5 separate regions of the Homo sapiens genome follow, and regions 1, 2, 3 and 4 are each reported to be linked to region 5. The links are microRNA targets in miRTarBase. Many come from high-throughput screens and were not tested one by one. Region 5 holds a microRNA gene; each other region holds the end of a gene's coding sequence.
What was found. Region 5 holds the annotated microRNA hsa-miR-6808-5p (CAGGCAGGGAGGUGGGACCAUG, at 3,192-3,213, opposite strand). A microRNA usually pairs through its seed, bases 2 to 8, with sites in the 3' UTR of a target mRNA and lowers its output. Matches are read on the target gene's strand: a 7mer-m8 pairs with bases 2 to 8, a 7mer-A1 pairs with bases 2 to 7 and ends in A, and an 8mer does both.

Region 1 (6,468 bases), not on the chromosome of region 5:
TGGGCTGATCACTTCAAGTCAGGAGTTCAAAACCAGCCTGGCCAACACGGTGAAACCCCGTCTCTACTAAAAAATTAAAAAAAAAAAAAAAATTAGCTGGGTGTGGTGGCAGGCGCCTGTAATCCCAGCTACTTGGGAGGCTAAGGCAGGAGAATTGCTTGAACCTGGGAGGCAGAGGTTGCAGTGAGCCGAGATCGCACCACTGCACTCCAGCCTGGATGACAGAGAGAGACTCTATCTCGAAAAATATGAAAAAAATAAAGGCCTGGAACAACTGAAATCCTTCCTCCGCTAGCTCAAAATTGGCCGGCTTTCTGCTCAAGCAGCGCACAGGGTGGTGGAGGAAGCCAGTGATAAGTATCAAGATGAAGGCTTCTGTCTGGCTGCTACAGACGTGTCCTGGGGGGATAAAAGACAAAGGGTTATGGGAGGCTGGAGGAGAGGCCCCTCACTCAGGCTAGGGAGGTCAGTGAAGGTTTCCTAGAGGAGGTGACATTGGCCTGGGGCTCTGAAAGATGGGCAGGCATTCCCCAAGCAGATGGCCTGGGGAATGGCAGTCCTAACAGAGGAACAGCAGGGACGAAGGCCTGGAGACAAAGAATGGGGCTGATGTCACCCTGTGTCTAAATCCTAGCTGTGCCATTCCAGAGCTGGGCGACCTTGATCCTCTGAGCCTTTTTTTTTTTAAGCAGATGGGATGACGATAGACCTCCTTCAGGAGACGCTTGTGCCATAATAAGATGTCATCCCAGCTCCAGGCACACTGCACATGCTTGGTATCAGTCACTTACTGGGCCACTGAGAGCCCTTGGTGGGCTCAGGGGATGTGGGTGGGCTGGGGTTGCTCGGGAGGTCTGGGGTGACCATCGCCCTCGCCTGCAGGCCGCTGGAGTAACATGTACAAGCTACCCTACAACTGGATCGGCACAGGCCACGTGGTGTACCAGGGCGCCTTCTACTACAACCGCGCCTTCACCAAGAACATCATCAAGTACGACCTACGGCAGCGCTTCGTGGCCTCCTGGGCGCTGCTGCCCGACGTGGTATATGAGGACACCACACCTTGGAAGTGGCGCGGACACTCGGACATTGACTTTGCCGTGGACGAGAGCGGCCTGTGGGTCATCTACCCCGCCGTGGACGACCGCGATGAGGCCCAGCCCGAGGTGATCGTCCTGAGTCGCTTGGACCCCGGCGATCTCTCCGTGCACCGGGAGACCACGTGGAAGACACGGCTGCGGCGGAACTCCTACGGGAACTGCTTCCTGGTGTGCGGCATCCTGTATGCCGTGGACACGTACAACCAGCAGGAAGGCCAGGTCGCCTACGCTTTCGACACGCACACGGGCACCGACGCACGCCCCCAGCTGCCGTTCCTCAACGAGCACGCCTACACCACCCAGATCGACTACAACCCCAAGGAGCGGGTGCTGTACGCCTGGGACAATGGCCACCAGCTCACCTACACCCTCCACTTCGTGGTCTGAGTGGAGACCTGTGCTCCCCGGAGAGGGGCAGCAGTGCGGGAGGGGCTTTGCACAGCAGCTCCTGCAACTGACCCAGTCCGCAAATATTTATTGGGGGCCAGCCCAGGGCTGGGACTGGGCATGAGGTGGTCACCAGGATTGAGCTTCCTCAGCACCCAGTGGGTAATACTTGCTTCCACTTGCAGAGCACCGTGCCAAGCACTTCCCACACACTTACCCGTTTGATTCTCCTAGCACCTCCCTTGGAGGTAGAGATCATGAACCCATTTAACAGACGAGGAGACAGGCTCAGAGAGGCACCGTCCCTTGCCTAACACCTCAGTTGTGATCAGGCAGGCTGTGCTCTCAGGACAGCCCCATTTTAGGGATGAGGAGACTTCACCACGCCCTCCCCTCCCTGCCCTCCCCCATCTCCCCGGTCTCCCTTGTTCTCTCAACCCAGTCTCCCTTCCCAGGGCCACTCAGAACCAGAGGTCTTTAGGGCCAGTGTACTGGTGTGGGGTGGAGGCCCTGGCTCTGCCTGCCATCCTAGGGCCCTGTTCTGGCTGAGCTGTTGGTGGCCCTGGGCTTTGGGCCCCTTAGCCAATGTCCTTGTCTCTTGTCTTTGGCCAGCCCCCTCAGCCCAGCCCACCCCACCCGCTGTCCGGCCACATTCCAAACCTCTACCGTCACCTAGCTGCTGAGCAGAAACCGCACCCCGAGAGAAAATCCCATCCTCTGTTCCAAGGCCCCTGTCTGCTCTATGCTCATTTTTATTTTCTCTTATTCTTCATCAGTGCCGTCATTTGTTTCTGCAGCAGCAGCTGAGAAGGCAGCCGGCAGCTCTGCCAGGGTGGGGAGCTGAGCTGAGGCTCCCTCTCCACCCAGAAGCACTGGCGTTGTTCACATAGTCAGGCCTTGGGTCCCCTCCCTGGTTCATCCCAGAGCCTTTGGGCCTGGAGTCCGCCTTGTCCTTTTTCTCTGGGCTTTCAAACCCACAACCTTTACACACTCAGGGATACCTCCGGGTCTGCCATGAATAAGACCCTAGGCCCAAGTCTGGTGTGGTGCCAGGATGGCACAGTTTCCCTCTTCCTTGCCAGCCCTGACCTGGTCACTGGGCAGGCTGGCCCAGCAGCCTGGGGGCTGCAGAAGACATGGTGTGAGTAGTTGGGTCCAGGGGAGGCATCAGGCCTTCTTCTGGTTGCAGGAGAGAACCAGAGGGTGGGAACGGGGAGGGAAGAACTGAGGGTCTGCAGACTGGACTTTTCCTGGCTCGACCCAGGACTTGGGTTGAGGATGCACGGGGGCCACCTTGCCCGGGGCCACTGGTGGCTCCCCAGAGCCTCAGACCCACACAGCCCAGAGGACGAGGCCTTCAAGCCTGCCCCTCTTCTGCTTTTTTAGACAGTATTTTTAGAGCTGGAAAGAAATTTTCTAGCCCAACTCCCTGTTTCATGAAAGAGAAAAGAGGCTCAGAAAAGTTTAGAGAGCAGCTCAGTGTCACACTGGGAGCTGGGCACAGCCGATCTCCTTCCAGAAGGGTTCTGTCTGTATCCTTTATTCTCCGCACATGGAGGCTGCCCTACCTGGGAAGGCACCCCAGCACCTGTGAAGGACATTTACTGCTCATCCTCACCTGCCCCCTGGCCCTTGCTGCCTTCATTCTGTCCCAATGCCAGCTCCCTGGATGTCTGTATGTTTGAATACCAGTTGCCATGTTAGGAAGGTCAGCTGCACAGCCAAGAGTGTAAGAGTGTAAAGAAATGCCTTTTTTTTTTTTTTTGAGTTGGAGTTTTGCTCTTGTCGCCCAGGCTGGAGTGCAGTGGCGCGATCTCGGCTCACTGCAACCTCTGCCCCCTGGGTTCAAGCGATTCTCCTGCCTCAGCCTCCCTAGTAGCTGGGACTACAGCACCCACCACCACACCCAGCTAATTTTTGTATTTTTAGTAGAGACAGGGGTTTCACCACGTTGGCCAGGCTGGTCTCGAACTCCTGACCTTAGGTGATCCGCCCGCCTCAGCCTCCCAAAGTGTTGGGATTACAGGCATGAGCCACTGCGCCTGGCCAGCAAATGCTTTTTGTGCAGAATACACTTCTTTCAGGCATTGTCAGGTGCTGTTTTGTTTAAGCTCTAACTCACCCCTGGAATACAGGGGAATGATGACAACCAGCCCAGCCAGGCCTGACTCATCATGGTCACATCCAGCCCCCACCCCCGGCCAACTAACCACTGCAGGCTCCTCTTCCAGACTCACCAGGGGGCCTCGAGGCCCCGGCATCTCCCTTGGCCCTGGGTGTGGGTTTTACAAGACTGTGTCTTTCATGACATCATAGCCCAACCATGTGAGAAGAAGGAGAAGGCCCCCCTTTCTTCATTAATCTGAAAAAAAGGAAAGTGAGAATAGGCTGATTTTTAAAAGTTAAGGGGCAAGCAGCATTGCATTCTGGGGGAACGATCCTGGCCACAGCCGCCAAACAAACATTCACTAGGCCTCTTCTGTTTTCATACCCTTGTAAGTGGGTTATGTGGTGGGTATGGTCAGTTTTTTCTTTTTTCTTTTCTTTTCTTTTTTTTGAGACAGAGTTTCGCTTTTGTTGCCCGGGCTGGAATGCAATGGCGCGATTCAGCTCACTGCAATCTCCGCCTCCCGGGTTCAAGTGATTCTCCTGCCTTAGCCTCCTGAAAAGCTGGGATTACAGGGCCCTGCCACCAAGCCCAGCTAATTGTATTTTTAGTAGAGACAGGATTTCACCATGTTGGCCAGGCCAGTCTCAAACTCCTGACCTCAGGTGATCCACCTGCCTCAGCCTCCCAGACTGTTGGGATTACAGGCATGAGCCACCACGCCTGGCCAGTTTCTTCATTTTACATATGGTCACATTGGCGCCTAGAACAGTTAGGTCGCTCGTCACATAGGCAGTTAAGTGGAGAACCAGGTTTCAAAATCAGGTAAGAAAACCATCATCATTAACTGAGCACCAGCTGTGCTAAGCCTGCCACGGGCGTATCCTTGCAGCCTCACAACAGTGGGAGGTCTGTATCCTGAATGTCCTCATTTTACAGATGAGGACATTGAGGAGAAGAGACTTACCCAGGCTCACACAGCAGCTCAGCCTGTTCCAGGCGCTGGTCAGTGCGTGTTCTTTGCCACCAGCCTGTCACTCCAGTGGCAGCTCCAGAAACGGAGGCTGTTGCTTTTATCCCTAAACTGCATCCACAGAGAAGCCCCAAGAAGGAGGTTGGGGCCAGCTCATAAAAAGCCTGAATGCCAAGCCAAGGAGTGGATGCCTCCAGTCATATTTAGAACAAAGTCAAGTATAAATTTACAGAGAAAAAATTCTAAGACAGTTGGATGTTGTCCTGTTGGTGAGGAAGGGAAAGGTTTTTCTTGTAGGGAACTGGAACCAGCCCACAACTGCACACTTGTGAGCTGTCATGGAAACCTGATCCCCAACAGCTTTTGAGGTTGTTTGTTTGTTTGTTTGTTTACCTGTCTTGGGCTTTGTTGCTTTTGGCAAAAGGTACTTCAAACAAGGGAGGGCCTGGACTGAGGGGGACCAGGTCTTCTTGCTGACCTCGTCTACAAAGGCAAAGGAAGGCAAAGGAAGCTGTCTCGGGTGTTTCTGAACAACGTGACTCATGAGGGGCTTTGGCTACCTCTTGCGTTCCCCCTAGAGATGTCCAGGCCTTACATTTAATCGGCTTTCTCTGCGGTGGGGTAGAGAATGGAGCTCCCGCCTTGCGGGCAGTGCTAAAGGTGGAGCTGGGGGATTTTCCTGGGAATGATTTGAGGGCTCTTGAAAGCCCATGTGTTCCAAAGCGTCTTTAACTCTGGGATAGCATTGGAAGCCGCTGTCATGACAGGACATGGCACTGGATGGCTGGCAGAGAGCCCTGGCTGGGAGTTAGGGAGCCCTGGGTTGGAATCCAGCCCCACCTCTTTTATGCCACAGGTTTGGTCAAGTTCTCTCCCGCTCAGGGTAGGGCTGTGAACTCCCTCTTACAGCTAAGAACATGCAGCTTAGTGAGGACAAGACCCTTCTAGAGCTTTACCCCTAATCCCCCCCCAGGAGCCCCGAGGCCGGCATTATTCCTCCCCATTACAGGTGATGAGCCTCAAATTCAGAGAGCTTAAGCAACCTGCTCAGGGTCACGTCTCCAACAGGCAGTAGAGTCAAGGTATAAACCAGGTCTGTTTTTGTACCAGAGTCCCAGACTAACTGTTGGTAGGAATCTTGTAACCAGTCATGTTTTCTTCCTTGTTTTGGCCGCTGGGAAGCTCAAAGTCAAATTCGAGACCCTTTTTTTTCCAATTGTGCTGAGTCTCCTACTAGACTCGCTTCATTCTAGCTTTCTGCTTTTACCTTTACCCTAATCTTTTTATTTTTATGCTATTGTACTTTATTTTTGTAAGTTGCTGAGATATCTGTTTTGCAACAAGATGGGCTATATCTAAATAAAGACATGATCAAAGGTTTGATTTAAAAGTCTGGACTAAATGCTGTGGTCCATATCTTTATCAGAACACATACATTTAATAACTTTTAAAACAAATAATTTGTCGGCTGGGCATGGTGTCTTGCACCTGTAATCCCAGCACTTTGGGAGGCTGAGGTAGGTGGATTACTAGAGGTCAACACAGCACAGGAGTGCACACTCACAAACAACTGTGCAAGAGCATAAGCCTTAGAATCTGTCAAACCAGGGGTCGAACTTGGGGAATTTGCTTGGGGTCTGACCTTTCTCCTATTAAAATGGAGAAGATCATATTGTATATATTCTAGAGTTCGAGACCAGCCTGGCCAACATGGTGAAACCCTGTCTACCAAAAAATACAAAAATTAGCTGGGCATGGTGGCACGTGCCTGTAGTCTCAGCTACACGGGAAGCTGAGGCAGGAGAGTTGCTTGAACCTGGGAGGTTGCAGTGAGCCAAGATGGCGCCACCACACTCCAGTCTGGGTGACAAAGCAAGACTCCATCTCAAAAAAAAAAAAAT
Region 2 (6,345 bases), not on the chromosome of region 5:
CACCAACCACAGCCACTGTACCCAGGCTCTGAGATGGCCCTGCAGAGCTGTCACGTGTCGGTATAGGTCCCTTTGTCACATGTCTACCCTTCTCACCTTGCTTTCTTAGTCCTCCTCTGCCAGAACATATTGATCTGCCTGGCTTTTTCTTTTTTCTTCCCCGAGACATTGTCTCACTCTGTTTTCTAGGTGGAGTGCAGTGGCACAATCCCAGCTCGCTGCAACCTCCGCCTCCCGGGTTCAAGTGATTCTCCTGCCTCCGCCTCCCAAGTAGCTGGGATTACAGGTGCGCGCTACCATGCCCGGCTAATTTCTGTATTTTTAGTAGAGACAGGCTTTGACTGTGTTGGCCAGGCTGGCCTCAAACTCTTGACCTCAAGTGATCCGCCTGCCTTGGCCTCCCAAAGTGCTGGGATTACAGTCATGAGCCACTGCGCCTGGGCTGCCTGGCTCTTCTTGATGCCTACAGAGTATTCCATTGTGGAGAGGGCCTGACATGGATGCCTTGGTCCCTTTGGGTGGCCGGCTTTGGCTGTCACAGGCAGTGCTGTCAGAGGAGCTCAGAGTCTTTGGTCATATGTGTGAGTCCTGCAGGATGAACTTGTAGACCGGGAATTCCTGGGTCATGGAACAAGTGGATCCAAATCGCTGATAGAGCTTCATTTCTTGTCATTCCAGAAGTCACCTGCACCGGTGCCCGTGACGTACGAGCTGCCCACACTGTATAGGACGGAGGACTATTTTCCTGTGGACGCCGGGGAAGCACAGCACCACCCCCGCACCTGCCCTCGGCCTTTGTGAGCTTTGTGGTCTTCCCATCAGGAACGCTGGAAAGTGACATTGTGTACACACTGCAGCTTGGGGGTTTTTTCTTTGTATTGCTGTTTATTTTATATTTTAAAAATATTTAAAAAAATGTCGAGATGGGGTCTCACTATGTTGTCCAGACTGATCTCAAACTCCTGGGCTCAAGTGATCCACCCACCTTGGCCTTCCAAAGTGGTGGGATTATGGGCAGGAGCCTCCGTGCCCAGGCTGCTGCCATTTTCAAATTTCCTCCCTGCCTCATGTGAGACCACAGGGTTTGGAGAAGCAGTTGGAACCCACGTGTGGTGATGCCTCCCACATCGGCCTGCTTGGGGTTCTACAGGGGTTGAGGGACCAGGCCTGGCCGGGGCTGATGGACAGTGGGGACTTTCCTTCTCTCCATGATGGCTTTGCAGGGGCTCCATGGTCCTTCTCTCTGTGATGGGTTTTTGCACGGGGTGTGCTCTGCCACTGTGGTGGGTGGGTGGATGCTGCTTCTGTTGCCTCCAGACCTCGGTGCCCACAGCCTTGAGGATCCTTCCAATAAAGGTGTCAAGAGCTCAGCCCTGGTCTGGTGTGAGAATGACGGGGAGTGATAGTTTCCTTTTCACCTGTGCAGTGTTTTCTAGAAGGTTCCTCCTGTGCCTCACCTGCGAGGGCCTGATCCTGGGCACCTGCTGATGAGGCTCCAGCTGAGGGAGGGGTAGTCCCGGCCTTTGGATTTCCAGCAAGAGTGCAGAGGTCATTAGGACCCCCAGGGTCTTCAAAGGCTTGTTTACCCACATTTCTTCCCATGCAGATGAGTTTCCTGCTATTGTCCTAACACTCCGGATTTCTCACTGTGGCTTCAACCTGCAATGGGTATTTCTGGAATTCCTCGAAGAGCCAAGAACACACACATAATTCCCCTATGCACATACAGGACTGAACTGTAAATCTGCATTAGAATTTCAAGATAATCTGCCTGGGCAAGGTGACTCATGCCTGTAATCCCAGCATCTTGGGAGGCTGAGGCAGGAGGGTCGCTTATGCACAGGGTCAAGACTGCAGTGAGCCGTGATTGTTCTACTGCACCCTAGCATGTGCAACAGAGCAAGACCCTGTCCCCCACACCCCAAAAAAGTTTTTCAAGGAAGCCTAAAATAATGAATCTGGCAAGATAGAGTAGAGGCCAGGTGCAGCGGCTCATGTCTGTGATCCCAGCACTTTGGGAGGCCGAGGCAGGCAGATCGCCCAGGAGTTTGAGACCAGCCTGGGCAACATAATGAGACCATATCTCTACCAAAAATACAAAAATTAGCCTGGCGTGCTGGTGCACATCTGTGGTCCCAGCTACTTGGGAGGCTGAGGTGGGAGGATTGCTTGAGCCTGGGAGGTTGAGGCTGCAGTGAGCCATGATTGTGCCACTGCACTCTAGCCTGGGTAACCAAGTGAGATCTTGGCTAAAAATGTTTTTAAAAATTAAAAACAGAAAAGCAGGGAAATAGTTTAGACAATTTTTGGAATTCAGAGATATAGGTAGACCCCTTGTTTCTGGAAAAGTCAGCATTTTTATTCTCTTTTCTTTTTTTTCGAGATGGAGTCTCACTCTGTCACCCAGGCTGTAGTGCGGTGGCATGATCTCAGCTCACTGCAACCTCCGCCTCCCGAGTTCAAGCTATTTTCCTGCCTCAGCCTCCCAGGAAGCTGGGATTACGGGAGCACACCACCACGCCCAGCTAATTTTTGTATTTTTAGTAGAGACGGGGTTTCGCCATGTTGGTCAGGCTGGTCTCGAACTCCTGACCTCAGGTGATCCTCCTACTTTGGCCTCCCAAGGTGCTGGGATTACAGGTGTGAGCCACCATGCCCGGTCAGCATTTTTTTATTGAGGTGACTTTTACAATTTTTTTTTTCTTTAAATGAGACACCTGTCACCCAGCCTGGAGTGCAGTGGTGTGATCATGGCTCCCTGAAACCTCAAGCTCCTGGGCTCAAGTGATCCTCCTGCCTCAGCCTCCCAAGTAGCTGGGACCACAAATGTGCACCACCATGCCTGGCAACTTTTCAAATTTGTTTTATTTTTTGTAGAGACAGGGTCTCCCTATGTTGTTCAGGCTGGTCTTGAACTTCTGGGCTCAGGGGACCCTCCTGTTTCGGCCTCCCAAAATGTAGTGTTGGCACAAACCTTTATTGAAGTATAATTTATATTACAGAAAGGGGTGCCTAAGTGGTTCACTAAATTTTTCACAAACTGAGTGTATCTATTTAAGCCTCACCAGACTGAGCAACCAACATTATCAGCACTGAGCAGCCCCCTCATGCCCGCTTCTGGTCCATGCCCATACCCACCCCCACCCCAGGCTGACAGCATACTGACATCTAACCATATGGACTGGAGTTTCTTGTTTCTGTGCTCTGTATAAAGAGAGGACACACGGGATGTGTACCTACGGTGTGTCATCTCTTGTCTCTGGCCTCACCGGCTTGATGTTACCTTGGGAGGTGTCACTGTTGCTGTGTCACTGTAGATCATTCCCATGGCTGTGTTGTATTGGCTGGGACTGTTTTTATCGAAGGGAGCTTGGACACTCTGCATGCCCCAGTGTGCTCAGGGAGAGCACACGTTGGATGGAAAGTTGGCCGGGTGAGGTGGCTCACGCCTGTAATCCCAGCACTTTGGGAGGCCAAGGTGGGCAGATCACTTGAGGTCAGGAATTCGAGACCAGCCTGGCCAACATAGTGAAACCTCATCTCTACTAAAAATACAAAAATTAGCCAGGTGCTGTGGTGCACCCCTGTAATCCCACCTACTCGGGAGGCTGAGGCAGGAGAATCGCTCGAATCTGGGAGGTGGAGGTTGCAGCAAGCCAAGATCGTGCCACTGCACTCCAGCCTGGGCAACAGAGCGAGACCCTATCTCAAAAAAGAAGAAAAAGGAGAAAGCTAATGTTAATTTTTTAGACAAGCAGTTGAGGACACTCATTTCCGGAAGGGTGAGTATCTGCTGAGTGTTGGGCACTCCCAGGCTTCTTTCTCCTCCCAGCCCCTGAAACAGGGGCCAGGGAGAGTTGGAAGGAAATCCCATGTGATTAAGCCGCAGCAACGTTGAGTGTCCTAAAGCAGGGACCCACAGGCCCCACGCTAGGAGCATGGCCCTGAGGTTAGCCTGCCTGGCAGCACTGTCCGCTCCCATGCCTCTTAGCTGTGTGAGCTGGGCTTTTCACTTGCTCTCTCTGAGTCCAGCTGCCCCTGCGGTAAGACATGAGGATGGCTCTGGTCTGATGGGTTGTGGTGAGGGTGACATGAGGTGAGCTGTGTGCATGCTGGGCACACTGGCGAGGGGCTCTCAGTAATGGGAGGCTGCTGTTGCAGGGCCCGGGCTGTGATGGGGAAAGGGTTGATTGTCCTGCGTTTCTCAGTTGACCAGCGGCATCCGAGGGCCTGAACAGCGAGTGACTCAGGGACTGCCCTTACGTGTCAGAGTTAGAAGTCATGGGAGAATGGAGGCTGCTCTCTCTGGGTTTCCCTGTCCTGTTAGGAGGGGTGAGGTTGCACAGGAAATCTATGGGGAAAAGGTGACAAGTGAACTGGAAGTAGCCGTTCCAAAGTTCCTAGGATTTGCACTGCCAAACAATGAGCTTTAAGGGACGCTTGGAAACATCTGGGGAGAAGGAAGGCCGGGACACTGCGCCCTGCCATCACCAACCCCTAACCTCAGTCCTCTGAGCGGCTCCACTGTCCCTGTGCCAGGTGACTTCATGTGCGTCCTCATTAAAGCAAAGTGCCTGACATTTCCATTGTCCAGTCAATGATGTCCTCGGTTGCTGACTATTGATGGCCTCTAACCCCTTGGTAAGGGTAACTGCAGCCTAGGAAAGGGTGATCTGATCTTTCTCTTTTTTAAACAGAGACGGGGTTTTGCTATGTTGTCCAGGCTAGTCTCAACCTCCTGGGCTCAAGCGATCCTCCTACCTTGGCCACCCAAAGTATTGGGATTACAGTCGTGAGCCACCGAGGCCTGCCAGTCTTTTTCTTTTGTGGCTGATGTTGGACAGGGACACCAGTAGAAAGGTCACTGCAGATTTCTTCCCAAGAGCAAGGCTCTTCGGTCAACCCCCTTTCCCACTTTCCCAGCGGATGTGAACTTCGTGCTCACCAAAGCAAGAGGTTTCAAGGTAGCAGCCCATGGGGTTGTATCTGATTGGCAGAAATGTGTGGTTTGCCCTGAATTGTTTTAAGATGTTTTCATGTTGTGACAATTGGGTAAACTTCTGGAAAAAATAGAGCTCCATACCTCACTCAGCACACCTGGATTGTAAATCGATTAGGAGCTTAATGTATAAAATGAATCTATTGGCCGGGTGCAGTGGCTCACACCTGAATCCTACCACTTTGGGAGGCCAAGGTGGGTGGATCGCTTGAGCTCAGGAGTTCAAGACCAGCATGGGCAACATAGCAAAACCCCTTCTCTGTAAAAAATAGAAAAATTAGCCAGGCATGGTGGTGCTTGCCTATAGACCCAGCTACTTGGTGGGAGGTGGGAAGATTGCTCGAGCCAGGGAACTTGAGGCTGCAGTGAGCTGAGATTGTGCCACTGCACTCCAGCCTGGGTGACAAAGTGTTACCCTGTCTTAGAAAGTAAAATAAAACGAATCTATTGAAGAAATAGGTTAAAAACATTGGCGAAGTGTACAAAATCGAGAAGCCATAAAAGAGGTCAATTTGATTATATAAAATTTTTAAACTTCTGCATGGCAAAACCAACGGAAAACTCAACCAAAAAATCCCAAAACAACAAAATCCTAAGCAAATTCAAAAGATAGATGACAAATTGGGAAAATATATTTGCATCTCATGCTACAAAGGGATAATCTCCCTAAAAAATGTCACCTACAAAAAAGGGAAACAGTAGCAAAACAGGCAAAGGCTATGAACAGGAGTTTCACAGAAAATGCAAAACATGAAAAGATACTCAACCTTAATGTATGCCAATAAGTATGGAAAAATACCCTGAGATTTTTCACATTTCAGGCTGGCAAGGATTAAAATTTTTGATGACACTATTGAATTTTTTTTTTTTTTTGAGACAGAGTCTGCTCTGTTGCCCAGGCTGGAGTGCAGTGGTGTGATCTCAGCTCACTGCAACCCCTGCCTCCTGGGCTCAAATGATCCTCCCACCTCAGGCACCCAAGTAGCTGGGATTACAGGTGCGCACCACCATGCCCAGCTAATTTTTGTGTTTTTAGTAAAGATGGGGTTTTGCCATGTTGGCCAGGCTGGTCTCAAACTCCTGGCCTCAAGTGATCCACCTGCCTCAGCCTCCTAAAGTGCTGGAATTACAGGCTTGAGCCACTGTGCCTGGTCTTGCTGGTGATATTTTGAAGAAACATATTCTTGTACATTGATGGTGGGACACCATTCTCATGGGGGGGCAATTGGCATACCTAACAAAATTAGAAATGGTCCTAGCTACTCAGTAGGCTGCGGCAGCAGGATCGCTTGAGTGAGCCCAGGAGGTTGAGGCTGCAGTAAGCCGTGATCATGCCACTGCACTCC
Region 3 (5,000 bases), not on the chromosome of region 5:
ACAGCTCACTCCTCGATGAGTGTCTATGGGGCTCTGTGGTGGGGGTTGAGGATGTGAAGACCCATGGGGCAGTGGCTCCCTTTTACTTCCAACAACTGAAAATGTACAAGTGAGCCATGATGCAGCGTTTAGGACTCAGGCTCACAAAGGAGACCAAAGAACTGTATTTGTGGAGTCAGACGCAGTTGGGCTCGATCCAGTGTCTGCCACCTTCTTGTTTTGTGACCTCAGGCAAGTGAGTCCTTGGAGCTTCAGTTTCCTGTTCTGTACAGTGAGGGTGGAGAGAGTTGTGGGGCCATGAGGATTGGGCTAGATCTGGAGTGTGAAGTGCCTGGCATGCAGTGAGTGCTTAGTAAGTCAGCCATTGTTGAAGTGCTGACAAGCAGAGGGATCCCCTCAGGCCAGGGAACGGGGGAATGACCTTGCGGATGTGAGGAAAGATTTCAGTGGGGTCCTCAATGAGGAGAATTTGAACGGGCAGAAAAGAGGCAGGGTTAGGGCATGAGCCCGGTGCTGTTCTGTGGCAGGAGCTTGGCCAAAGGTGGGGTGAGGACATCTGTACCCGGAGTGCAGAGAGGTGGGTGATGTCCTGCAGCCTGGGCTTCGGCCTGCAGGGAGTCAGGGCCACAGAGCTGAGTAAGAGGATGACCCCTCACTTGGGGTGCCAGGGGAGTCATGTGGTGGCAGATCCAGGATGTGGAGGCTAGGGCAGGCAGGCTGCTGGGGGCATTGGTGCCACTGACCCTGGGCAGGGAGATTTGGACCTGATCCTGAGGTGGCTGAGAGCAGAGATTCGAGAGCAGACCACCTTGGTCTGAACTCTAGCCCCGCTGTTGCTCTGCTGGGGCTCCTTTTATTCTCTGTGCCTCAGTTTCTTCATCTTTGAAGTGGAGTTAGCTCCTCCTCATAGAGTGGATTGTTAAATATGTAAGATGCTTGGAACAGTCTCTGGCTCACACTATGAGCACCCTAAGCACTCGCCTACTGCAGCGGTGGTGGTGGGAATGGAAAGAAAGAGTAAGTACATGGGGAGTGGGTAGGGACAACCTGAGCCACGTGCAGAGGAAAAGGGGTCAAAAGAATAACTGAGGTCTGGAGAGAAAGATGACAAGGTATGTTGAGTTTAAATAGAAATGTCCATTTGAGTTTGGAACCCCTGTATCTTGAGAGAGTGGCTGGAGCTAAGGATGGAGATTTGGGGGTTTTCTGGATAACAACTATAATCAAAATCCCACAGTTGGCTCAAATGGGGGAGGCTTTTAGCCAGCACTCCAGCCAGGTCTCACTGCACATGTGGCAGAGTCCAGTCTCCCCAGCGTGGGGGTGAGAGGTGGAGCACAGGCAGAAGCACCCTGTCCCCACCAGCCAGAGTCTGGTCATTCTTGGTTTTCAGTCATCCTACCTGCTGCCCAATCAGAAACATCTTCCTGGTTGGCATCTGTCTAGGACAGTTTCCCAGCTCAGTTCCATTCTGTGGAACCACAGGATGAAGGTAGGTGCAGTGAGAAGGAAAAAAGAGTTTTGCATGCAAATATGTTTGAAAGGTGTTAGATAAAACAAAATGAAAATGACCCCATTTTTGGCTGAGTTTCTTGGGGCCTCATGCACAGTGTCAGTCTCCAAGGGGTGATAGGGAAAAAGAAGGGTTTCGGTGTTCCTCGTGGAAGCAGCTTTGGAACTAGGATCTCTGAAATGGCATAGAGATCACTCCGGATTGCCCTTACCATATCCCCAAGCCCCACGTGGACAGACGCGTCACACACACTCACAGCTGTCTTTTATTCCTGTTCATTCCTTGTTAAGAGGCTTTGACTCTCCAGAATCCAAGGGGCAGCCCCTCTTTTCTGCCCCTCCCCACACATCTCTGGCTGCTTTCTCCTCTGCAGCTATGCCTGTGTCTTTTGTGCTCATAGGAAAACAGGCTGGTCAGCCACAGCAGTCCTCCTTTTCTGGAGAGTTCCGACCCTGTTGACTCCCCTGCATCCTGCACGGCACTTCCCTCCACCAAAGTCCCTCCGTGGCAGGCCTGGGCCATAGCTAAGGGGAGCTGATAACATGCGCCTTATTTAAAAGCCACAAAACTATCTTCTCAAAGTAATCCTTCTGTGAGCTGTTCACCACATCAGCCTGGCCTGATGCCCCACTTGGCCTCAGTCAGCATGGCTTGGCTCTGAGGCCAGAAGATAGGAAGGACGCTGCTTTTATGTCCTTGTAGTCCACTCCAGCCTAGCCTGGCACAGAGGACAGGTTAAGCCCCCTCAGTCCTGGCCCCGAATGTCTGCTTGGTTTGGCGCAATCCAGCGCCCCTGACCTGCTCTGTCTTTTTTCCCAGGAAAGAGCATCTACGGTGAGCGCTTCCCCGATGAGAACTTCAAACTGAAGCACTACGGGCCTGGCTGGGTGAGCATGGCCAACGCAGGCAAAGACACCAACGGCTCCCAGTTCTTCATCACGACAGTCAAGACAGCCTGGCTAGATGGCAAGCATGTGGTGTTTGGCAAAGTTCTAGAGGGCATGGTGAGTTGTGGAAGCAAGGGCTACTACTGGGCAATCCTCACCGGGGATTCAACACAGACCCCAGGGCAGGAGCTCCATGTGTCCATCCCTTTCCCAAAAGGACCCAACCCACAGATGCAGCCCAGTGCTCCTGTCCAGAATAAACCCTGTACCTCCATGCCTCCAAGGTTCTAAATTCTTCCAGCCCCCTCAGAGCCCAGCCAGGAAGGCTGCACAACTGCCAGAGCCTCCCTCCCCTCCTTCACTCAGTGACGTGCTGGTCCCACCCCTGAGGTATACAGAGTGCAGCTGAACGCAATGTCCCTGAGAAGCCACATGCCCTGGTCACCCTCTTCCTCCTCCTCACCCTTGGCCCAACCTGGGTCTTACTTCAAAGGAACAAAATTCCTGTACCCCCTCGTCAAATCTGCATTCTCCCTGCTCTGGCCAGGAGTCTGTTAGAATTTTGGTGCCTCCAGTTTTGTGTGCTGTTGATCACTTGTGGGTCTTAGCCCTCCTGAGCCATACGCTGGGGCCTTTCTCCTGAGCGGTGGACCTCCTGATCCACCATGCCCTCCTGCTTCCACCTTTCTTTTCCAGGAGGTGGTGCGGAAGGTGGAGAGCACCAAGACAGACAGCCGGGATAAACCCCTGAAGGATGTGATCATCGCAGACTGCGGCAAGATCGAGGTGGAGAAGCCCTTTGCCATCGCCAAGGAGTAGGGCACAGGGACATCTTTCTTTGAGTGACCGTCTGTGCAGGCCCTGTAGTCCGCCACAGGGCTCTGAGCTGCACTGGCCCCGGTGCTGGCATCTGGTGGAGCGGACCCACTCCCCTCACATTCCACAGGCCCATGGACTCACTTTTGTAACAAACTCCTACCAACACTGACCAATAAAAAAAAATGTGGGTTTTTTTTTTTTTAATATATAATGTGTGGGCCTGGTTCTTGAGCCTGCAGCACCTCCCCTAGGCCTACATCCCAACATGCCTGCAACTCTCCTGTGGCAATGGGTGCCTGCCCCTTCCCTGGGATCCTGCCTGAAATTTTGACCCAGGAGCTACCCAGGAAAAGTCAGGCAGGAGCTTTTGCCCCCTGCTTCTAAACTTTGCCAGCTACTGGGCCTCCACATTTGCTCCCCTTGCCACCACCCTCCAGTCTATGTTAAGGGATGTATCTGTACTTTTTCATAGCCTACCTCTAAATTGATTTTTTTTTTTTTTTTTTTTTTTTGGTAGAGACAGGTCTCACTATGTTGCGCTGGCTGGTCTCAAACTTCCAGACCCAAGCATCCTCCTGCCTTGGCCTCCTAAAGTATTGGGATTACAGGCATGAGCCTCTGCACCCAGCTGACTTCTTCCTTTATTATTTATTTATTTTGAGACGGAGTTTCACTCTTGTTGCCCAGGCTGGAGTGCAGTGGCGCGATCTCGGCTCACCACAACTTCCGCCTCCTGGCTTCAAGAGATTCTCCTGCCTTGGGCCGAGCACGGTGGCTCACGCCCGTAATCCCAGCACTTTGGGAAGCCGAGGCGGGTGGATCACCTGACGTCAGGAGTACAAGACCAGCCTGGCCAACGTGGTGAAACCCATCTCTATTAAAAATACAAAAATTAGCCGGGCATGGTGGCGGATGCCTGTAATCCCAGCTACTCGAGAGGCTGAGGCAGGAGAATTGCTTGAACCCGGGAAGCGGGGGTTGCCGTGAGCCGAGATCGTGCCATTGCATTCCAGCCTGGGCAACAAGAGTGAAACTCCGTCTCAAAAAAAAAAAAAAAAAAAAAAAAGAGATTCTCCTACCTCAGCTTCCCGAGTAGCTGGGATTACAGGCATGCACCACCACAATGCCCGGCTAATTTTGTATTTTTAGTAGAGACGGGGTTTCTCCATGGTGGTCAGGCTGGTCTCGAACTCCTGACTTCAGGTGATCCACCCATCTTGGCCTCCCAAAGTGCTGGGATTACAGGCATGAGCCACCGCGCCTGGCTGACTTCCTCTTTTATTACTTATCTTCTTGACCCTGCCTTGGCTGTTGGGCTCTAAGAGCATACAAATTCTACCACCTCCAGCTACCAATGCGAGCCAAGTTCTGAGCCTTGAGTGGGAATGTGGCACAACTGGGCACTGGGTAATTAAGTCCTGGGTCCAGGCCAAAGGAGGACCCAGCCTTATATGGAGTTCATAGGACAGAGGCACATGACTTTCTTAGGAGGCAGCCAAAGGCCTCTGGACTGATCAGGGCATCGGTGGCAGAGGAGCAGGGTGACAGGCCGCCTTTGGCTGGGCTTTATCTGGGCTGATGCTGAAGCTGTAGAGGCCCTGGAGCACACCATTCACCACCACGTTGGGCAGCGACTCTGTGGGATAGAATTAAACAGGTCTGGCCTCAGACCTGCAGCTCCTTGAGCTCCTGCTCATGGGCTCAGCCCCCACTTGGGAGTAGGAGCCCCTGCCAAGGCAGCAGACAGCAGCTGTCCACCCCAAATGAAGCCTCCGCATTCC
Region 4 (6,468 bases), not on the chromosome of region 5:
TATCTCCAGATATCACAAGGCAGAGGATCCTGAGCATTGACAGGAATCTACGCAACCAGCTTTTTAACCGAGCCAGGGACTTTAAAGCCTATTCTCTTGCCTTGGACGACCAGGCTTTTGTGGCCTATGAGAACTACCTCCTGGTCTTTATCCGCGGTGTAGGCCCTGAGTTGGAGGTGCAAGAAGATCTTCTGACCATAATCAACCTGACTCATCATTTCAGTGTTGGTGCGCTCATGTCGGCAATCCTAGAGTCCCTGCAGACAGCAGGGCTTAGCTTGCAGAGAATGGTTGGACTGACCACGACCCATACTTTGAGGATGATTGGTGAGAACTCAGGACTCGTCTCATACATGAGAGAAAAGGCCGTAAGCCCCAACTGTTGGAATGTCATTCATTATTCAGGATTTCTTCACTTGGAACTGTTGAGCTCCTATGATGTAGATGTTAATCAGATCATAAATACCATATCCGAATGGATAGTTTTGATTAAGACCAGAGGCGTTAGGCGACCTGAATTTCAGACTTTACTAACGGAATCTGAATCAGAGCATGGTGAAAGGGTTAATGGACGATGTCTGAACAATTGGCTTAGGAGAGGGAAAACTTTAAAACTAATATTCTCTCTAAGAAAAGAAATGGAAGCGTTCTTGGTTTCAGTAGGGGCAACAACAGTCCACTTCTCAGACAAACAATGGCTTTGTGACTTTGGCTTCTTGGTGGACATTATGGAACACCTTCGAGAACTCAGTGAAGAATTACGAGTTAGTAAAGTCTTTGCTGCTGCTGCCTTTGACCATATTTGTACTTTCGAAGTTAAGCTGAATTTATTTCAAAGACATATTGAGGAAAAAAATCTAACAGACTTTCCTGCCCTCAGAGAAGTTGTTGATGAGCTAAAACAGCAAAATAAGGAAGATGAAAAAATATTTGATCCTGATAGGTATCAAATGGTGATCTGTCGTCTCCAAAAAGAATTTGAGAGACATTTTAAGGACCTCAGGTTCATTAAAAAGGACTTAGAACTTTTTTCAAATCCATTTAACTTTAAACCTGAATATGCACCTATTTCAGTGAGGGTGGAGCTAACAAAACTTCAGGCAAACACTAATCTTTGGAATGAATACAGAATCAAAGACTTGGGGCAGTTTTATGCTGGATTGTCTGCTGAATCCTACCCAATTATCAAAGGGGTTGCCTGTAAGGTGGCATCCTTGTTTGATAGTAACCAAATCTGTGAAAAGGCTTTTTCATATTTGACTCGAAACCAACACACTTTGAGTCAGCCATTAACAGATGAGCATCTCCAAGCCCTGTTTCGGGTTGCCACAACTGAAATGGAGCCCGGTTGGGATGACCTTGTGAGAGAAAGAAATGAATCTAATCCATAAGGCTTTGTAGTACAAGATTGAAAAACTCAACAAGAATTTAATTCTAAAAGCAAAAATTGGTTTGAGTTTTCAAGTTTACTAATTTGGATTGTGAGAAAGTACCAAGTACCAGCCGTCCAAACTGATCACAATTAAAATTCTGACAGTTGCCTTTTTTTTCATCTCAAATGGCAGCATGGGACTGAAACATGAGAATGCCACCTTTTTTAAAACTTAGTTTAGTGACAAAGTCATTGTCTTTTATGATATAGTTAATTTTAAAGAGATTTAGTATTAATGTGAGTTGAATTTGCAGTCTGTTTTTTAGGTGTTCTGAAGATAAATGCCAAAAATTTCAGCTCTTATTTTAATGGAGTGTTAAAATTCTGATTCATATAGTCTTAAATTATCAACTCCTTAAATGTGCTTTTGAACCAATTTGCAGAAGCTCACATAGCAAGTTCATAAGTTTCCAAAAAGGAAGCCCATACATAACAGTGGAGGTGTTTTGTCTAACCATCAAAATGTTTGAGACTTTTTTTTAAACATTTCTGAGTTCGAAGGTAATACTGACAGATTTCTTCCCTCTTCCCTCCCCATCACCCACCTCAGTGATAACACATTACTGATAGAGGAAGTCATTAGAATCATTTTTAAGTTTCAGATATAGGAGACTTCATGCAATTTGGAGATAAGACTAATTATTGGGGGTTTTCCTTGGATTTTTTTTTTAATAACTGGGGGCTATTTTATCAGCTTGCCTATTAAAGGACTATGGTAAGTATAGAATCTTAATGGTTGCCAGTTAGTAATTCTTTTTTTTTTTTTTTTTACTGTAGACACAAGTTTGGCCCTATCAAAAACGATGAGGAAAAAAGATTGCACTCCAGGATTAGGAGGTGTGAGATATTTTAGCTTTTTTGTCTTATCTGCGTGGGTATTGCTGCTTTATTTTAAAAAATCCTGCCTAAAGTAAACACTTTGTTTTAAAATGATACAGTATCAGATTTTGTTAGATGCTAGAAATGGATTTATTCTAAAATTTGGAACTGTCGTACACATTCTATATGTAAGATAGCACACAAGTAGAAATATTTAAAAGCAGTCTTATTCACAGATTGCAGTAATTCTGTATTTCTACTAAGATAATCTGCTTTGTGCCAAAACAGTAATTTCCAAACTTCTGTTCACCATGAAAAGGCAATCTTAAAGTTCATTATGTAAAACTAATTATAAACAGGACCCAATTTATATTCATAGATCCTCTCAAGTATTATACAATTTAAAAACTCTTGTTCCAAAGTCCTGTCTTAACTATTGAAACACCTTAATCTGTGGTTACTAATCCAGCAAATTCAAGGAACCAGGCTATGACTAAGAATTTAGGTGGAATTGATGTCTGGGCAATTAAAATAAATGGCATAAGAGCTTAAAAACCAAAGTTGTGCCAGTGGCTTTCAACTAGAGGCAGTAACCTGTCATTCCAGAGGATGCTGAGAAATGTGTAGGGGCACTTTTTTGGTTGTCATATTTACTAGGGGCTTCTGTTGGCATTTAAGCCTAAAGACACTCACCCCTGCAGTGCATGGGACAGCCTGGCACAATGAAGAATTAGCCCTCCCAAAATGTAGATTATTTTATTTCAAGGGATAGGGCAGATTACCATTAGAAGCAAAATTAAAAGTACAAGCTGGGCAAACTGACAGAATACTAGATAGGAGAGACTAATTCCAACCTTCTAAATTTGGCTAGTAAAGTGCAATAAAGGCATTGATAAGTTCTGTTAGCTCACCATAGCACTTGTAAATCAGGAATTAATAATTGAATCAGATTTAAGGGCTCTGTCCTGTTATACATATTTAAGGCAGAAAAAAAGTTACATGTCGATTAGGTACTTATCAAGAATGGTCAAGCTGAGATTTTGGTTAATAGAGTAAGCTTACATATCTAGAGAAACAACATAGTGGAAAACCGAAAAAAAAAAACAGAAAAATCTACCGGTAATTTCCCAATAGCTTTGAATATTCACAGCAGAGCTTTATTACTTGAGAGAAAGACTGGAAGACCTGAAAGCCACTTCTGCTTTCTAACCCCAGTTCCTTAAATATTGAAATCTTGTACATTTTGTGAAATTCCAGTATGTTTTGCTTAAGGTGTTAATAAAATTAGTTTGCATCATGTAGTCATTGAGTGAGGGGGAGATATAAGCCAAGGATTTTAAATTGACCCTTAGCTATAGAGAATTTGCTATAAGCTAGTCTTGTTTGTAAAAAAAAAAAAAAAAAAAGAAAAAGAAAAAAGTGTATTTTACTGTTTTCTGTATTAAGTAATTCTGTAACTGCATGGCAGTCTTTTTTTTTTTAAATAAATATAGTTGTTACTGGTCCTGTTGTAGCAGTGAATATAGTTAAAATACGTACATTAAAAAAAAAATTATTAGGTCCTTACCAGTTACTGTCCTATAGCTCATTCCTACTAGTTTTCTTGACAGATTTGTATTCCCAGTGTCCCGTATTGCCACTCAAATTGCTCTACTATGCTAAGTCCTTGTTAATAGTCTTACCCTCCTTGAAACACTTGAACACTTGATGACTTTAGCTTTGAGGAGATACCATCTCCAGGTGTGCTTTCTTAGTCTTTGCAGGCACCTCTTCCCTTCAATATCTGTTCTTCGTATTTTTAAAAAAATTTGTTTTAGACTGCCTTGTTCTGTGTCAGCTCGCTAGCTGATCTCATTTCCTTCCATGGTTTCCTTACCATTTATATGCAAATGACTGTCAGATTCATATCTCCTTTCTAGATCTTCCCTAATTGATGTATCTAATTGCTAACAAATGCTCTTTGCTGTCTCAGGCACTACATGTCATTGATCTTGCCCCCAATCCTGCTCCTCCTCTCATGTTTCCTCTTTGACTAAATGGCATTACCACTACCAACCATTCATTTGTCCTTTTTACCAATTCTCCAATGCTGCCATTTTAATTCAGGCCATCAACCTACCTAAATTATAGCAACAGCCTCCTTATTAGTCTCCCTGTTTTTTATTTTTATTCCTTTCTACACTACAACCAAATTGCTCCAAAAGACTTACTGATCATGTCACTGCATTGCTTTCACCATTGCTCTTAGGGTACAATACAAATTTATCTTCATCTTTAAGGTCTCAGTATGCCACTTCATCTAGGAAACCTTCATTGATGCCCTCTAGATTAGGTGCCCTTACTATCCATTCCCTATACACCCTGTTCTTTCCCAGACATACACTTGGCACACTTTATTGTTACTGCTTATTGATCACTGCTAGACTGTAAGCTTTGTAAGGGCAGGGACCATATAAGCCTTGTTCACTGTTATATCTCTAGTGCTTAGCACAATGCCTGGCATTTCAATAAATGTTTGGACAAACGAATATTTGTGTAGTGTTTTACAATTTTTGAAGCTCTTTCACAGTCTTATTTGACCTTCACAGTCATTCTGCCTTAGACTGTCCATTGGGTAACTTTTATCCACATATTACTAATTGAAAAATGAAGACAAGTTCTTTGTAACTAGGGACCTCGTTGTATTCTCAGAATTTAGTGTAGTGCTTAGCATGTGACTTAAATATGTATTATGTGACTGTTAAACAAATTGTGGTTTTCTCTGTTGTATGAAAGGAGAGAAGGATAACAAATTGCGGTTTTCCCTGGTAAACACAGTAAGTAGTAAACTCAGGATTCAAAACCAAATATACACACCAAATCCACTATGTAATATTAAGTTTGCATATCCATGTATAGAATCTTATTTTTTTTTACCCTTTGTAAACAGTGTCATATATATATATATATTTTTTTTTTTTTTTTAAATTTCCAAAGGAACCTACATATAGAGGGAAAAGATTAGACAACTACTTAGTGAACTAAAACAATATGTTTTTACTAAATGTTACATTTAGTATTGGAAAAAGATAATGCCGCCTAAGAGTTAATAATCATTTTTCCTTTTGTAGGCATCAACACTAGGAGAAAATGGCATGCTATTTACTTGCTACTTTCCTTTACAGATGATTTTTGGCTCTTCTGGGATTTAAAAGTAAGTAAATTTAACAAAGTAGAAGACTGACTCAGCCCTTCTGGTCACTATATATTCAGTTCACTTGTTTTTACACCTGCAGAATGTCCTTATCACCCAAAGGGAGATGACCCAAAAGTGACATCTAGTTAATGTATACTTCTAAAGTTTGCTGTATTCCTTTGCCTTCTTGTTCCCATGCCTCTCTGAACTTAATTTCTGGGTAACTGAGGCTTTTCAGGCTTAGGTGGGAAAGCCACACCCTTAGTCTGTTTCCTTAAGCCATTTTGACCAATTTATGGGATTAACTAGTATAATCTTAGTTGGAGTTTTAGTCTGAGGCATATTAAGTCATTCAGAGATCTTAACAGTAGGTGTCATAGTCATCCAGTGATTTGGTGCTTGCTGCAAAACTGGCTTTTTTTTTTTTTTTTTTTTTTGAGGCGGGGTCTCACTTTGTCACCCAGGCTGGAGTGCAGAGGTACAATCTCAGCTCAATGCAATCTCTGCCTTCCTGGCTCAAGCAATTCTCCCACTGCAGCCTCCTAAGTAGCTGGGAATACAGGTATACACGAGTACACCCAGCTAATTTTTGTATTTTTATGTGGAGACAGGGTCTTGCTGTATTCCCCAGGCTAGTCTCGAATTCCTGGACTCAAGCAGTCCGCCCGCCTCGGGCTCCCAAAATGTTGGTGTTATACGTGTGAGCCTCTGCACCCGGCGGCAAAACTGGCTTTTAATCAACCTTTTGGCTAAAGGATTTCTCTTTTTATTTATTTGTAAAAGGATTTCCCATTTTTATCTTTCTTTTTGATATTAAAATGTTGCCTCATCCTACCCAGTAAGTACTTGAATTTGAATTCTCTTCCTTTTCATTTTTGCCTGCAAACTGACCAGTCTTTTCTGAGTTCATCTCTTCTGTACGTTTTGTCAAGTGCAGTGAACAGCAACTACAAAATATTTTGTTTTTCTGTCTTTTTCTTTAGTAAAGGGTAGATGATCTGCCTTTCAGGTTATCTCAAGGGGCAGTTTCACCTTTCCATAA
Region 5 (5,248 bases):
CGGGTGGACCCACTGCTTTTGCTCCCTGGGAGTGAGAACAGGATGGGGAAGGAGCCTGTCAGCACCAGGCCCGGCCACGTCCAGAACAACCGCCCCCGCCAGGTGACCGGGCAGGAACGGTGGCCCGTGCAGGACGGGTGGGTGGGGCAGCCATGCAGGCGCGAGGACAGGGCCGGCACCCCCAGGGTCGCAGGGGCAGCTGCGGCAGGCATGGGCTGGTGGGGGCAGTGGGAGGCAGGCAGGGTCCTGGGGCAAGCTGGGCGCCCCCACACCTCACCCCGATGCTTGAGCTGAGGGCCTGGTCTTGCGGCTGAAAGACTGAGGTGCCAGCGAGGGCCCCTCATGCCCGGTGCCCCCGTGGCCATCCTGGATTCCCCACCCAAGGCCCCACTGTCCCCCCGGCCCAGGACCCTGGCCGACGGATGACTCAGCTCAGCCCTGTCCTGGGCTCCCAAGACGCAGTGGGAGCTGGAGGGCGTGGCTGGCTGGGGACATGCTGAGGGACCCCGGGCGGGACCCTGGCTTACCGGCCCAAGGTCCGCTCCGCTAGTCCTTCAGTCTAAGGCTTGTTTAGCACAAGACAAGGGATAGCACGAGTTACACGCCCGGCTGCCTGGCACCTGCCCAGCACCCACCCGCCACCAGTGGGGACTGACCGCGGGCTGGGCGGGGCTGAAGTGGGCGCAAGCGCCGGTCGAGGGTCAGTAGACACCCAGCGTGGCTTCTCTGCGGTCCCACACCCTCTGGCCGCCTCTCCTCTCTCGCCCTCCTTCCTGGGCCCTCCACGAAGCCACCTGCACCCCTCCCTGGCCTGCAGACGCCCCTGCTGGCCTCACCAACCCCACCCACTGGGGCCTCTGCTCCACCAGGCAACACCTCAGGAACACTCTGGATCCCCGGCCCCTAAACACACCCCAGCCAGGGGCACAAGGCTAGGATGCACGGCACCATCCACGTCAGGCTCCCTACCCGGGCTGCAGCTGCCACCCTCCTGTGTCCTGGGGCCTAGAAAGTGACCCTGTCAGACTCCTTGGCCACCCCTGCCCTGTCCTTGTCACATGGCCCATGGCCACATGGTCTCAGGGCCTCCTGCCTCTACCATAGGAGAACCACCAGCCGCCACCCCTACCAGGCACAGCCGCCCAGGCCGCCAGGCTCCTGGAGGCCCCTCATCCCAATCCCACCCAGATGAGGTGGGGTCCAGGCTGCCCCTGTGTGAGACGCTTCCCTGTCCTCCCCATTCACACTGGCTCCTGGATCCCCCTGGCACTTGCCTTTTCCAGAAGGAGCCCACCCAGGGCCCAAGTACACAGCAGGAGCATGGGATTGGGGTCAGCAGAGAAGCAGGGCGGAGCAGCAGCGGGGTGGGGTGGAGCTGGGGGTGGAGCAGCAGCGGGGTGGGGTGGAACTGGGGGCGGAGCAGCAGTGGAGTGGGGCGGAGCTGGGGGCGGAGCCGGGGAAGGGCAGGTAGGGGCGGCGTTCTCACCTTCACTCTGCTGACTCCCGGTGCTGCCGCTGCCATAGCTAAAGCCCGGGTCCTGGTAGGCAGGCGGGAAGCAGGGTGGGGGTCCCGGGTACTGGTAGGGGTAGCCCTGACCCAGAGGCCAGGGGGCAGCCGGGTGGGGCAGCGGGGCCAGCGTGTCCTGATCCGAAGTCCCACTGGAGCCACTGTTGAGGTTCAGGGTGGCGAGATCTGGCGGGGGAGGGTAGGTGAGGGCCGCGGAGGGGCCTCCGGCGTTCCCCTCCCCCCCGCCCTGAAGCCCGAAGCCCCCACTCACTGCTGCAGAGATCCCCGAAGACGTAGTAGCACTGCTCGGAGAAGGTGATCTTGTTGACCGTGTGCCGCAGGAAGCCGTGCTTCAGCAAGCTGCTGGCGTACTTCCGGGCCTCCCGCCGCTCCTTGAAGCCCTCCACGTGTGTGTACAGCCAGTCCACCACGTCCGCCCCTGGCCGGCACCAGCGGTCAGCCCGCAGCCTCGAGGCAAGCAGCCCTGCCCCTGGCACTATCCGCCCGCGGGGACGGCCACTCACCGATGACGGCATTGGCGATGGTGATCTTGAGCCACATGCGGTCGCGGATCTCCAGTCCCGAGTCTGGCAGCTGCATGACCCGGACGACGGCGCTCATGTCACTCTTCACCGTCAGCGGCGCCTCTTCCAGCTCTGCAAAGCACAGACAGCCCCGCTTCAGCCCCAGCATCTGAAGGCGGGGGACTCAGGGCCCTGCACCCCCAGGGGAGCCTCTGGGCAGAGCCTGCGCCAGGGCGCAAGCTGGACGGTGCGTGACAGCAGGGCCCCGGCCCACTGCAGGATGCACCCCCGTGAGGCTGGGGCGTGAGCAGGGGGGTTGGACATTTAGTCTCCCACTTCTACAGACACTTTTCATCAGGATCCTAGGCACAAACTGGGCTGACACCCCACCCTGCAGACCAGGAAGTAATGAGAACAGGGCAGGCCCCTTCCCCTCCCCGCATGCCCCACCCGAGAGCGCAGGCTGTTAGTCGTGTTAATGGCAGGAAGCAGAATGGAGACCTGGCCCCTGCCTCTGACGCCGTGGGTGCTCCCCGCATAGGGGCCCTACGTACATCCCCTGTTCCCAACACACAGACCATGAGCAGGATGGGCTGCACAAGGTGGGCACGGGTGCCTGTGCACACGTCTGTGCAGGGAGTTGGGGACAGGCAACACACACGTGTCACAGCCCCATGACGGCCACAGGCGGCCATGCTGGAGGCTGGCAGAGACGCCCCCTCCAAGCCTCGGTTTCTGCTGGGGCCCTCAGGAGCTGCCACTTACGTGGAGCACCAGGCACGGAGCTGGTTAGTGAGGAGGAGCTGGTGCGCGTGACGGCGCTGGAGCAGGGACTCGTACCGTAGCGGGGCAGGGCTCCTGTCAGTGCCGCCGTGTGGGACAGCCAGGCGGCGGGGTCGATGGGCCGCACCGGGTCAGCTGGGTGGCCGCCACGTGGCGATGACAGGCGGACAGATGGACAGGGTGGGAGGGCAGGGTGCAGGGCACAGAGGAGAGAGGCCTTCAGGCTAGGTAGGCGCCCCCTCCCCATCCCGCCCCGTGTGCCCCGAGGGCCACTCACCCCGTGGGACGGTGAAGTAGCTTCGGGGCGTTGGGTCCCAGCACTTGGCCACAGTGAGGCTGATGGGCCTGCAGGAACGGTGGTCACACAGCAAGGCCCCCATGGTCCCACCTCCCTGCCTGGCCCCTCCCGCTCCAGCGCCCCCAGCCCTCACCCCGTCTGGGAAACGATCTCCCGCAGCACCCGCACGGCATCGTCATTGCTCATGTTCTCAAAGTTCACGTCATTCACCTGCAGGGGTGGGGATTAGGGTGGTGCAGGCAGGATGTGCAGCTCAGTCCACCGCCCCCGCAGACCCACCCACAGCCGCATGTCCCCCAGCAGCCCCCGCAGACCCACCCGCAGCCGCATGTCCCCCAGCAGCCCCTACAGACCCACCCGCAGCCGCACGTCACCCCAAAGTCCCCACGGACCCACCCGCAGCTACATGTCACCCCGCAGCCCCCACAGACACACCTGCAGCAACATGTCGCCGGGCTCGATGCGGCCGTCAGCGGCCACAGCCCCGCCCTTCATGATGGAGCCAATGTAGATGCCGCCGTCTCCACGGTCGTTGCTCTGCCCCACGATGCTGATGCCCAGAAAGTGATGTCTTTCTGCAGGAAGAGCCATGAGCCGCGGCCAAGCCCCTGCCCCTGCCCCCAACCCTCGCCCCGAGGCCTCACCCATGTTGAGCGTGACAGTGACGATGTTGAGGGACATGGTGGAGTCGGTTATGCTGCTGAAGGAGGAGGCCTATGGAGGAGAGGGGGCGTGTGTAAAAGGCACGGGGCTGCCCGACACTGACTTCGCCTCCCCAGCCCCGCCCTGCTCCACCCGGCTGCCTACCCGGTCCGCCTGCCGAAGGCGCTGCTTCCTCCGCCGGCGTTTGTGCTTCCGGATGAGTCTGGATGAGGTGCTCTGCTCCGTGGAGCTGCTGAGCCTGGGAACAGACTGTCAGAGCTCAGAGGAGCTGGAGACATGGGTAGGGGGGTGGGAACCCGCTCCCCCAATACTGAGTGGGAATCGGGGGTCTAGGCCAGGCTTGTTCCAAAGCAGGCTCAGTGCCTGACGTCCACGCCCCAGGCCCTGCACACGTGATATGCATATGAGCACACACGAAAATCCCAGAGACAGGCAAACTGGGCACAGACACATGTAGCCAGATCCACTACTGACACACCTGCACACATGCACACCTGCACACACATGCACACCTGCACACACGCACCCCTGCACAAGGCACACATGCACACACCTGCACACACACCTGCACACACGCAACCCTGCACACATGCACCCCTGCGCACAGGCACACATGCACACCCCTGCACACGCACGCATGAACACACGCACACCTGCACACGCATGCACACCTGCACACACGCACCCCTGCACACTACACACCTGCACAGGCACACATGCACACCTGCATACTCACCTGCACACGCACCCCTGCACAATGCACCCCTGCACACACGCACCCCTGCACACACATGCACACCTGCACACACGCACCCCTGCACACAGGCACACCTGCACACACCTGCACACGCACGCCTGCACATGCACACCTGCACGCACACCTTCACATACACCTGTACAAGCACACCTGCACACACGCACATCTGCACACGCACACCTGCACACACGCACACGCACACATGCACACACCTGCGCACACGCGTGCATTGTGAAAACGCTCACGTGCACACTGTGAAAACGCACCTCACACACACATACATGCACACACAGACATGCGCATCATGTACATAAACGTTTGCACACAGGTACATGCACAGACACATCCGCAATGTGAAAACGCCTCACACAGACACACATGCACAAGCAGACACGTGCATCATGTACACGTTTGCACGCGGGCACACACACAGGCGCGCACACACGTGCACAGTGAAAACACCTCATGTGGAACACGTGCACAAGCACACGTGCATCATGTACACAGACATTTGCAGGCACACACATGCACACACACGCACACACGTGCAATGTGAAAACACCTCATGCAGACACATGCACATCATGTACAGACATTTGCAAGTGGGCACACAGGCATACACGCCCACAGACACTCCCACACACCTGCTCGTGCTGCCATCCTCGTCCGAGTCCACAAAGCTGCTGGACTCAAGCTCGCTGCTGAGGGCGGTGGAC

Region 1: miRTarBase lists OLFML2A as a target of hsa-miR-6808-5p. Seed matches in the 3' UTR shown: 7mer-m8 at 3,345-3,351, 7mer-m8 at 4,136-4,142 and 7mer-m8 at 4,268-4,274.
Region 2: miRTarBase lists BCAS4 as a target of hsa-miR-6808-5p. Seed matches in the 3' UTR shown: 7mer-m8 at 1,060-1,066.
Region 3: miRTarBase lists SNX22 as a target of hsa-miR-6808-5p. Seed matches in the 3' UTR shown: 7mer-m8 at 4,163-4,169 and 7mer-m8 at 3,575-3,581.
Region 4: miRTarBase lists EPM2AIP1 as a target of hsa-miR-6808-5p. Seed matches in the 3' UTR shown: 8mer at 2,333-2,340.

What each region holds. Positions count from the first base shown.
Region 1 is chr9:124,808,926-124,815,393 of GRCh38, forward strand. It overlaps OLFML2A (olfactomedin like 2A), which reads left to right. Exons shown (of 8, transcript NM_182487.4): 8 at 883-5,957. The coding sequence ends at 1,487. Among named protein-coding and RNA genes, the nearest start is that of OLFML2A, 35 kb to the left of the region's middle. RefSeq lists enhancers at 2,283-2,783, 2,784-3,286, 3,788-4,289.
Region 2 is chr20:50,875,808-50,882,152 of GRCh38, forward strand. BCAS4 (breast carcinoma amplified sequence 4) reads left to right here. Exons shown (of 5, transcript NM_198799.4): 5 at 679-1,370. The coding sequence ends at 801. LOC124904929 (a long non-coding RNA gene) reads right to left here and starts at 204. Exons shown (of 2, transcript XR_007067647.1): 1 at 1-204. RefSeq lists enhancers at 334-914, 3,573-4,074, 4,075-4,574.
Region 3 is chr15:64,154,242-64,159,241 of GRCh38, reverse strand. SNX22 (sorting nexin 22) reads right to left here. Exons shown (of 7, transcript NM_024798.3): 7 at 1,761-4,855. The coding sequence ends at 4,734. PPIB (peptidylprolyl isomerase B) reads left to right here. Exons shown (of 5, transcript NM_000942.5): 4 at 2,333-2,517; 5 at 3,097-3,425. The coding sequence ends at 3,219. Among named protein-coding and RNA genes, the nearest start is that of SNX22, 5.0 kb to the right of the region's middle. RefSeq lists enhancers at 4,796-4,955, 4,966-5,000, 4,831-5,000.
Region 4 is chr3:36,986,177-36,992,644 of GRCh38, reverse strand. It overlaps EPM2AIP1 (EPM2A interacting protein 1), which reads left to right. Exons shown (of 1, transcript NM_014805.4): 1 at 1-6,468. The coding sequence ends at 1,391. Among named protein-coding and RNA genes, the nearest start is that of EPM2AIP1, 3.7 kb to the left of the region's middle. RefSeq lists enhancers at 1-233, 264-343 and a silencer at 1,350-1,399.
Region 5 is chr1:1,336,491-1,341,738 of GRCh38, forward strand. MIR6808 (microRNA 6808) reads right to left here and starts at 3,218; the gene lies at 3,160-3,218. It overlaps DVL1 (dishevelled segment polarity protein 1), which reads right to left. Exons shown (of 15, transcript NM_001330311.2): 5 at 5,177-5,248; 6 at 3,920-4,013; 7 at 3,757-3,826; 8 at 3,548-3,687; 9 at 3,246-3,322; 10 at 3,092-3,159; 11 at 2,797-2,949; 12 at 2,032-2,163; 13 at 1,779-1,946; 14 at 1,487-1,693; 15 at 1-25. RefSeq lists a silencer at 1,454-1,513.